Regions from separate parts of the Homo sapiens genome. Here region 2 is linked to region 1. Evidence: fine-mapped expression QTL. A gene starts in region 1. The other region holds a variant in brackets. All regions are shown on one strand. Distances are from middle to middle.

What was found. PIP is the estimated chance that this variant, and not a neighbour inherited with it, causes the effect. A credible set is the group of variants that fine-mapping cannot tell apart.
Region 2: its variant is the best candidate, but not a certain one, in a credible set for the expression of DEK in whole blood (INTERVAL, PIP 0.60).

The regions. Positions count from the first base shown.
Region 1 is chr6:18,261,956-18,267,334 of GRCh38, reverse strand. It overlaps DEK (DEK proto-oncogene), which reads left to right and starts at 2,805. Exons shown (of 11, transcript NM_003472.4): 1 at 2,805-2,950; 2 at 3,339-3,492. The coding sequence starts at 3,348. LOC124901270 (a long non-coding RNA gene) reads right to left here and starts at 2,803. Exons shown (of 2, transcript XR_007059486.1): 1 at 2,258-2,803; 2 at 1-1,605. RefSeq lists silencers at 2,445-2,724, 2,765-3,124, 3,185-3,244 and an enhancer at 3,130-3,681.
Region 2 is chr6:18,281,802-18,287,180 of GRCh38, reverse strand. No RefSeq gene overlaps it. Among named protein-coding and RNA genes, the nearest start is that of DEK, 20 kb to the right of the region's middle. The variant C/A (reference allele first, on the strand shown) is at 2,197.

The DNA.
Region 1 (5,379 bases):
AGAGTTTCTTCTGCTGAATGCCAGACTCTCAAATCCAACTGCCACTCCTGAATCTCCATTTTGAATTGTCAAAACTAACATGTCTAAAACAAAACAACTCATTCCCACCTCCTGCACTTTCCCCTCTAAAACCATCCTGCCCACCCCCACCCCCGAAGTCTTTCTCATCTCAACGAATAGCTACTCCTGTTCTCACAGTTGTTGAACCAAAAACCCCAAGGTCATCACTGATTTCTACCTGACTCTCGTGCCCCACATCCAAAACTTTAGAGCATTCTTTGGAATAACCTAGTGGGTCTTCAGATCTCCCATTTTCTTAGGATCTCTTCAAATGTCATCTTATTAATAAGTCATTGCTTCATTGTTGAATATATAAAACAAAATCCCATCCACCCTACTGGTACTTCCTATCTTCTTTAACTTGCTTTACTGCTATCACTAATTGTCATAGAATATATATTCACCTGCTCGTTGTCTTGATGGCAGTGACAGCCTGTCTGGAGCAGCTGCTGAGGGGATGCCAGCTGCAGTATGGAAGGCGTGGCCAGAGCTGCCCACTCCTCAGAGACAGCGGGCGCCAGGAACATGCAAGAGCCCCGTCCCCTACCACGTCAGCGAGGCGGGAGACCCATGTTCCTGGGCACAGCTGCAGCCGTCCAGCCGCAGCTCTGCACCCAGCCATCCCTGCACTCTTGGGGGCCCAGGAAACCCCCTGCCCCTGCAGGCTGAAAGTGCCTGCTCCTGAGGTTGCAGTGAGCCAAGAGCACGCCACTGCACTCCAGCTTGGGTGACAGAGTGAGACCCTGTCTCAAAAAAAAAAAAAAAAAAAAAAAGAATGTGCCTGTTCCCAGGCCTCTACCCTCTCTCTACCCACTCCCAGGGCCCACTCCAAGGCGGAGCAAAGTTGTGGCCAGGCACGGGCGCTGCTGCAACCCAGCTGGGTGTGCACGTGTTCAGGGCAGCACTGACACACCAGCCACCTGCCGCCTTGGCCCTCTCTGGACTTTGGGCACCAACAAGTGCGAGAAAGAGGCTGGTGGGGCTGAGGGTGGCTCCGCGTGGGCCTGCAGGCACCCCTCAGCACAAACAGCCTGGGCGCCATGGATGACATGTTGATGGTGGGAGGCAGACACGTTCCTGGGGGGAAAGGGGTAGGTCCCTGCCCACCTTCAAGCCAGGGATGGCCTGAAGCCTGGGGGGCCTGGTGGCCAGTTCCAGGTAGAGTCTGCAGCCCAGAGTGAAAACTAGTGGTGCTTTTTCTGGGCCCACCCATGGGCCAATCAGCACACACTTCCTCCCTTCTGAGCCCATAAAAACCCCAGACTCAGCCAGCGCTCAGGCCTACCAGCTGCAGGAAGGAGCTACCCACTTTGGTCTCCTCAACTCGTCAGGACCACCTGCCTGCAGAAAGGAGCTGCCCACTATGGGTCTCCTCTCCACTGAGGGCAGGACGCTAGTCGGGACAACCCCCCTGCAGAAAGGAGCAACCCACTTCAGGTCTCAGGAGAGCTGTTCTGTCCCTCAGTGAAGCTCCTGTCCACCTTGCTCACCCTCCAGTTGTTTGCGTGCCTCACTCTTCCTGGACACAGGACCAGAACTCAGGACCTGCCAAATGGTAGGATTGAAAGAGCTGTAACACAAATAGGGGTGAAACACAACCCCCCACTCCCAACCACGTTGCAGGCAGCAAGAAGGAGAGATGAGCTGTGGAGTGTGGATAGGATTTGAGTGGGATAAATAGTGTGGAAAATGGCATACCGTTTGAGGGTAGAAATGACACTATTCGCGTATGTTTTGGAAGGGGAACAAAAGGAAAAGGGAAGATTCAAAGGAAATGTCTAATTTTTGTCCTGCAACCCAGAGTCCAGGCAAATTTCACTGATCACATTTCTATTAAGTCCACTGAGTACAAGGATCCTTCAGGTGAGCTAGTGGTTGAAGAGTTGGGAGAAAATAAAGGAAATCACATACAAAAGAAGGCAGCATTGAGCAGGGAAGATACTGCTTTGAGTGTCTGCAGTGTTGAATGTGTAAAAAGCATCTGCATAGATGACCTAGAACTCTGGGAGAAGGGTCTGGACCCGGCCAAATAACATATTTCCTCTATTATAAAACAGAGAGTGTGTGTGAGAGAGGAGAGGAGAAGGAATGGGGTGGGAGGGAGCCTCTCCCCTTATATTTACAGGGGTGTAAATCTATGTGGCTGGCTATGTGAACCTTTAACGTGGCAGGTAGGATCTTTTTCCTTTCGGTGCACCTTACAAGCGATGCGGTCCTCAGAAATACAGATTTGGGAGTTATCTATCACCCAGCATGATTTCTGGAGCATTGATGAGACCGCTGATTAATTCTCCTCCGCCTCAGAGTAACACTGTCGATAGCGACTTCGGAGATCTCTAAACTTCTTTACCGCGCCCGCCGCGCCCCTCCGCGGCCCGGGACTGCTCATCATCTTTTCCAGGAAGCGACCGTGGAAACAATAAACACGCAGGCCCCCTAGCGTCCTTCCGTTCCGCGCTGCCAGGCCGCCTCGCCTCCCGCTCCCGCCCGCCCCGCGGGACACAGCCCGCCCGCACTCCGGGGCCCGAGCGCCGACCACACTCCAGGCGCAGCCGGGGAGAGCCCCGCGCGCGCATCCCTCCGCCCGCGGCCGAGGCGACCCCTCGCGGTCCCGCCCGCCCGAGCTTCCCGCGGAGGCACCCGGCCGCCCCGCCTCCCCCGCCCCGCGCCCGCCAACTCCCAGCTCGCGGCCCTGATTGGTCGCCGCATTCCCGCTCTCCTTCCCGAACCGCCATTTTGAAAATCTTGTTGATTCTGGGGAGCCGAGCGCGCGGCGCGAGCGTCACGCCAGACAGCGGCCCGCGCGCCTTCTCCTCGGCGTCGGCCGCCGCCGCCTCCCAGAACCTCCTCGTGCCCTCGCGTGCCAGGCCCGCGGCGGCCGAAATCCGCGGTAAGGGCTGCTTCGGGACGCCGGAGGCCCGGTCGCCCCTGCCGCGGCCGACGGGGGAGGGACGCGGCCATTTGGACGGCGGCCTGGGGCGGGGGAGGGGACGTGGAGGGCCGGCAGCTCGGGCCGGGCCGGGAACAGCGCAGGCCGGGCGGGCGCGCGCGCACGCGGGGCAGCGGGCGCGGTTTCCCGCCTCGGGAATCCCTGGACGGCGGCGGCGGAGCGGGAGGGAAGCCGCCCCTGGGGACTGAGCGCTGCGGTCCCGGCTATGGGAGGAGGCAACTTTCAGGGCAGGTGTCCCGCGGGAAGGGTAGCATCATTCAGGGTGGCCGCCCGGTCCTGCCTGCGGGAGTAGGAGGACCGAGACGTCCGGCTTTCTTCCCGCATGCAGGTTCACAGCATGTCCGCCTCGGCCCCTGCTGCGGAGGGGGAGGGAACCCCCACCCAGCCCGCGTCCGAGAAAGAACCCGAAATGCCCGGTCCCAGAGAGGAGAGCGAGGAGGAAGAGGACGAGGACGACGAGGAGGAGGAGGAGGAGGAAAAAGGTGGGGGGAGTCGCATCCCAACTGATGAATTTTTCAGACCGAAGTTTTTTTGTATTTTTCACCCAGGAAACAGTTTTCTTGCTCTTTTGGTGTTTAGAGGCGTGAAGTCGGAGTGATTTTCAGCGAGAATGTGTGCACAATTTATCTGCTTTTGTTTTGAGCGATGGCGTAGAATTGACTTTGTGTATTCCGGTTTTTAAAGTATTTGTTAGCGTGGTAGAGATGTATTGGAGTGCAGCCGACTTCTCGTCCGCTCTAAACGTTCGTTAACATTTCATCATTTGACGGGAAGTTTGTAGGTCTTGGATTTGATTTTTTTTTTTACCTGTGTGTGTGCACCTTTGAAGTTGCTAAGTGGATGTTCTAATTTTGTCCTTTTCATTACACATCTTTTGCCTTTTGAAGTTATTGTAAGGTCTTGGTGCAGCCCGTTAAGACTGAAGTTATAAGGCTAGACCCGGAAGTATTTGAATACTTTCGAATATTTTTACATTTACCAAAAAGTTTCCCTCCCTGGCAAACAGCGGTGAAAGCTGTTGCTACTTGAGAAAGTAGTTAAAAATGAAGAAAGTGAACTCTGAAAGAAAGTTAAATGTGAGCCCAGCACTGTCTCGGTTTCGAACCTGTGTCTGTTTTAAGGGAGGGCGATATGAGCCCTGATTTGACTGGAGGTGTGAAACGGAAACTTGACTGAATAGAGGAGTGTGCTGCGGCAGTTTATCCAGGATGCATGCAGTGTCTGTTTCAGGTGTACCCGCTTCTTGACATGTTTCCAAACATTTAAAAATCCGAGTCGCATCTCTTAGCATTCTTTGATATTAGCTTAGTCTGCGGTTATTTCGTATATGTTTACGACTCAGCCACACTTGGGAAGAGGTTGAAGCGCTCTTCCTAAACCCGGATTTTTTTTAAGCCTCAACCAGCCTGTGGTCACAATCTGGGTTAAGATTACAAGGTGTGCCTTTTGTTTGTTTAAAGTGGTATGTGCCCTAAGAAGGGCATATTTAAGTAAAGCATGGCTTTTTAAATATAAGTTTTCACATAAACTATTGCTTAACAACATGTTATTTTAAAATTATTTTTAATACAACAACAAAATTGGCTGCACTATCTCGCTGCTAGCCAAAGAGGCTCTGCACTTTTTCTCCAATTTTTTGTTTGTATTTTGGTCTTCTGGTGGGGGCAGGGTTGAGATGCCAAAGAAATGGTGAATTTTCTTCATGTCAGGAAAAAATTAGAGAAGTCATGTAAATATACTGTAAGTGGCCAACACAGTAATGCTTGGGGAAGAGTTGGTAGTTGAAAGAATCCCATGTTTTGTTCTAGACAAATTATTTTTAAAAACATGATGTTGTAGAAATTTTATCCCCTAATAGTTTTATTGTAGCTGTGATTTATTATTCTTTTTACTAATTTGAGGTGTTTGTGGGACAAGTAGAATTGTGAAAGTTTTTATTTTACTTAACCCTGAATATTTAACTTTAGAACTGAGGCATCATGGAAGCCAGACAGTGAAATACTTTCTGTATTAGGCTTTTTTTTTTTTTTGCGTTACTATAAAGAAACACTTGAGGCAGGGTAGTTTATAAAGAAAATAGGTTTTATTGATTCGTGGTTCTGCAGACAGTACAAGAAGCATGGCGCCAGTATTTGCTTCTGGTGAAAGCCTCAGGAAACTTCCAATCATGGCAGAAGACAAAGGGGGAGCAGGCATTTCATTTGGGAGTGGGAGCAAGTTGTAGAGGGAGGTGCCATGCTCTTTTAAACAAATCTTGAGAGAACTCACTCACCACCACGGATTACCATGCTAAGCCGTTCATGAGGGATCTGCCCCCATGATTTAATCACCTTACCAGGCCTCACCTCCAGCATTGCAAATCACTTTTC
Region 2 (5,379 bases), 20 kb before region 1:
TTTGGAACAGAGTCTTACTCTATCACCCAGGTTGGAGTGCACTGGTGCGATCTGGGCTCACCAGAACAAAATTACAGCTAGGAAAGAGGACTAAGTTCTAGTGTTCTATACCACTGTAGGATGACTCTAGTTAATAATAATACATAGTTTCAAACAGCTAGAAGGAAGATATTGAATGTATATAGTTTCAAATAGCTAGAAGGAAGATACTGAATGTTCCCGACATGAAGAAATGATAAATGTTTGAGATGATGGATATGCTAATTACTGTGATCTGATCACTATACATTATATGTATCACAACGTCACTATGTACTGCATGAATATGTACAATTATTTGTCGATTTTACAGTTTTTAAATAATAAAGCCAGAAGCAAGAAATAACCTAATACAAAAAGAAAATATATGACTTCAGCATTTATTAATAATGATAATAATTGATTTAAATAATCCTAGATTGTATCAACAAAAAACTAGGAAACGTGGGAGTTGGAGAGAGAGGTAGTAAATGTGCCAACTTTCCCATCTTGCAGAAATAAAGTTAATAAATACCGTTTTCTCCTGGCATTGATTAGGGAAAACATGCATATACATGTGCATATATATATATATATATATATATATATATACACACGCACACAAACAAAAACATTAGCATATACATATATACATACACACAAACAAAAACCCGAAAGGCAGCAGTAGTGGATATTTAAAATATGAGAACTACCTTCCAAACTATCACAGGGAAAGTGAGCAAACATAATAGTATTATCCAGATAACAAAAGAAACACTCTCAATAGCATGGGCAATTCTTATGATATATTGTTAAATTCTTTTAAAGTAGGTCAAAAAGCAAAATGCATAGAAAAAAGTGTCAATTCTGTAACAACAAAATTAGTACACATATATACTCACACACATTATTGTAGTAAATAACTATGAAAGTCATACCAAATTGTTAAATGTGGTTATCTCTGGATGGTAGATTTGGAGGTAGTTTTGATATTCATCTTTAAAGTCCTCTGTATTTTCCCAACCAAAAATGTAAAATAAGGCAATTGCCTGAAATGCTCCTTAACCTTTTTCATAAGCCTATTTATTTATTAGGGACAGGATCTTCCTCTATCGCCCAGGTTGGAGTGTAGTGGCATGACCATAGCTCACTGCAGCCTCAACTTCCCTGGCTCAAGCAATCTTCCTGCCTCAGCCTCCCGAGTAGCTGGGACTACAGGCGTGCACCACCACACCTAATTATTTATTTACTTATTATTTATTTATTTATTTTTGAGACATGTTGCCCAAGTGAGTCTGTTGCCCAAGGTGGAGTGCAGTGGCGCGATCTCAGCTCACTGCAACTTCTGCCTCCCAGGTTCAAGTGATTCTCGTGCCTCAGACTCCTGAGTAGCTGGGAGTACAGGCATGCGCCATCACACCCAGCTTATTTTTTTTTTTTTTTTTTTTGTATTTTTAGTAGAGATAGAGTCTCACTCTATTGGCCAGGCTGTTCTCAAACTCCTGGCCTCAAGTGATCTGCCCACCTCTGCCTCCCAAAGTGCTGGAATTACAGGCATAAGTCACCACACCCGCTCATCAATTTTTTAAAAATTTTGTAGATACAAGGTCTCACTATGTTGCCCAAGCCAGTCTCGAACTCCTGAGCTCAAGGGATCCTCCTCCCACCTCGGCCTCCCATAATACTGAGATTACAGCTGTGAGACACTGTGCCTGGCCCATAAGCCTATTTATAAATTTAAATTGATATAAAAACAATTTTAAATGTAATACTCTCCAAATACTCTTACCTCTTTCTGCTCACATGGTTTCCCAGAAAATATTTAAATGATGATAAAGTATGCTAATGGAGAATATGACTTTTTTTTTTTTTTCCTGAGACAGAGTCTTACACTGTCGCCCAGGCTGGAGGGCAGTGGCACGATCTCAGCTCACTGCAACCTCCACCTCCCAGGTTGAAGTGATTCTCCTGCCTCAGCCTCCCGAGTAGCTGAGATTACAGGTGTGTGCCACCATGCCTGGCTAATTTTTGTATTTTTAATAGAGGAGGGTTTCACTATGTTGGCCAGCCTGGTCTTGAACTCCTGACCTCATGATCCACCCACCTTGGCCTCCCAAAGTGCTGGGATTACAGGTATGAGCCACTATGCCTGGCTGAGAGTATGACTTTAGAAGAAAA[C/A]AAATCATGACTAATTAAATATTATGGGGGAAAGTATTGTTAAAAGCAGTTGCTTGACTTTTTTTCCGTGTGTGTGTGTGTGTGTGTGTGTATGTGTGTGTGTGTGTGTGTGTGAAAAGCAAGGTCTTGCTATGTTGCCCAGGCTGGTCTCAAACTCCATGCCTCAAGCGATCCTCCCGCCTCTGCCTCCCTAAGTGGCGGGATTACAGGTGTGAGCCACCATACCTGGCTAGCTTGAAAATTTAAAGCAAGATTTCATGAGGCATTAATTACGCACTCTCCAAAAAAGGGGACAAAGGTGGGAAGGGGCACACATTCTGTCAACGTTCCCAAGCTGCAGACCAGGAAGCTGACCCCTGCCAAGAGAATGGCTGAGGGCCAGTTGCTTTCTGTACTAGGCCCAAAGTAGAGCCTTTCAAAGTGTTTACAAAGGTTTTCTATGAACCTCCTAATTCAGAGAATAGCCTTTGCCTTTCGGGATATGGAAACAAATGCATTGGAAGAATGGTAGTGAAAGAGAAAGAGAGCCCTCTCCAGATGCAAGGCTTTCTCCTAGGGTAGAAGTGTTAAGATTCCATTGTAATGAGGCAATTGTTCACCTCTTCATGTAAGAAATAACATAGGCCATAATAAATAACAAAGCATAATAAATAACAAAGGCCAAAAGAAGCAGATTAAAATGTATAAATTCTGGCCAAGCCTGTAATCCCAGCACTCTGGGAGGCCAAGGCGGGCTGATCACCTGAGGTCAGGAGTTCAAGACCAGCCTGGACAACATGGTAAAACCCTGACTCTACTAAAAACACAAAAAAATTAGCCAGGCATGGCACCTGTAATCCTGGCTACTTGGGAGTCTGAGGCAGGAGAATCGCTTGAACCTGGGAGGCAGAGGTTGCAGTGAGCCGAGACTGTACCATTGCACTCCAGCCTGGGCAATAAGAATGAAACTCCATCTAAAAAAAAAAAAAAAAAAAAAAAAAAAAAAATATATATATATATATATATATATATATATATATAAAAATTCATGGAACTGAAGGTAAAATTTGTACTACTGCTAAATTGTTAGATTTGTCTCAGATTAATAAATATTTTGTATAGAACAATGACTCTTGAACCCTACCAGACTAATGTTCATTTTTAAAACAAATATTTTGTGAGCTACCCCTTTTATATCTTGAAGTGAAATAGAAAATATAGCCAAATACATACATACTTTAAAAACAAAACAATTCAACCTCCTGATTATAACATAAAGGAGACATAAAGTAAATTCTAATAAAGTAGTATACATTTTAATTTACATAAAGTAAATTCTAATAAAGTAGTACACATTTTAATTTATAACTGCTCTGGCAGGATGATGACACTAAAAGACAGAACTCCTAAAAAGCCTCGAATAAAAAGTTATCGTGCAGTAAAGAATCACCTGCAAAGTGCAGTGGCTCATGTCTATAATTCCAGCACTTTGGGAGGCCAAGGTGGGCGGATCACTTGAGGTCAGGAGTTTGAGACCACCCTGGCCAATATGGCAAAACCCCATCTCTACTAAAAATACAAAAATTAGCCGGGTGTGGTGGTATGAGCCTGTAGTCCCAACTACTCCAGAGGCTGAGGCAGGAGAATGGCTTGAACCTGGGAGGTAGAGGTTGCTGTGAGCTGAGATCACACCACTGCACTACAGCTGGGTGACAGAGCAAGACTCTGTTTAAAAAAAAAAAAAAAAAATGCAATGGAGAGTGTGCAAATTTATCATATTATAGATGTCTTGTAAATCACCAAAAGTTTATGAAATTATTTTTTTAAATGTATGTTTAAAGACATCTTGATTATTAAGGATTCATTCTGCTTTGGAACACATTTTTTATTTTTTAACCATTCAACATTTATTATGTCCTACTATGTGCTATCCCTGGGGATACAGAGATGAAAAAAAAAAAAAACCATGCTTCCTACTCTCAAGGAGCTCACAGTCTAATGAGGGAGACTGACAAATAATTAGACAATGACAATACAGTGCACTAAGTGCTGTGATTGAGGGAAATTTTGAGGTAACACCTGAATTATCTTGAAGTTCATGTATGAGATATAAAAACACACCTTTTTGCTATTATTTTCTAGGCTTGTGTATATGCATGTAAATTCATAGTAAAACATCTGGAAGGATCACACCAAACTAAACATTTCTATTCCACAAGTATTTCCTAAATGTGTCAAGTGCTTTTCTAGGCATTTGGGATATATCACCAAACATAACAGACCAAGATCTCTGCCCTAGTTGCAAAGTCTTTTCAGAATTAGGAAATAGCTCAGATATCTTTTTTTTTTTTTTTTTTTTTTAGAAGGAGTCTTGCTTTGTTGCCCAGGCTGGAGTGCAGTGGTACGATCTTGGCTCGCGGCAACCTCAGCCTCCCAGGTTCAAGCGATTCTCCTGCCTCAGCCTCCTGAGTAGCGGGGACTACAGGCACGTGCCACCACACCCGACTAATTTTTGTATTTTTAGTAGAGACTGGGTTTCACCATGTTAGCCAGGATGATCAGGAGATCTCGTGATCCACCCACCTTGACCTCCCAAAGTGCTGGGATTATAGGCGTGAGCCACCACGCCTGGCCAGATATCTTAAAATGAGTATATAATCATCTATAGACTCACTCCACAGCTTGTATCTATTAGGGAAGCAATGTGGAATGTTAGAAGGGTATGCAACCTTGATCAAGATGCTCCCTTCTCTGAATCACAGATCTGTATAAAGGGAATAATAATGGCTACTTCTTAGGTCCGTAAAGATATTTTCTTAATGTAGGTAAAGTACCTCAATAAATGGTAGTAAATTGTGGTACTAGCAAGAATATCTCTCTAAATGTTCTCTCAAGATTGAATTCAATCCTTTCAGTGCCTATATATGAGGACAAATTATTTTACAACTAGTGAGAGTAGATCTTCAAGACAGATGATCTTGAAAGACAAAAGCATCAAGAAGTAGGACTTCCAGGCCAGGTGTGGTGGGTTGTGCCTGTAATCCCAGCACTTCAGGAGGCCAAGGCCGGAGGAATGCCTGAGCCCAGGAGTTCGAGGCTGCAGTGAACTATGATTGTGCCACTGCACTCCAGTCTGGGTAACAGAGCAAGACACTGTCTCTTAAATAAAAAGAAGAAGAAAGAAGAAGAAGAAAGGAGGAAGGA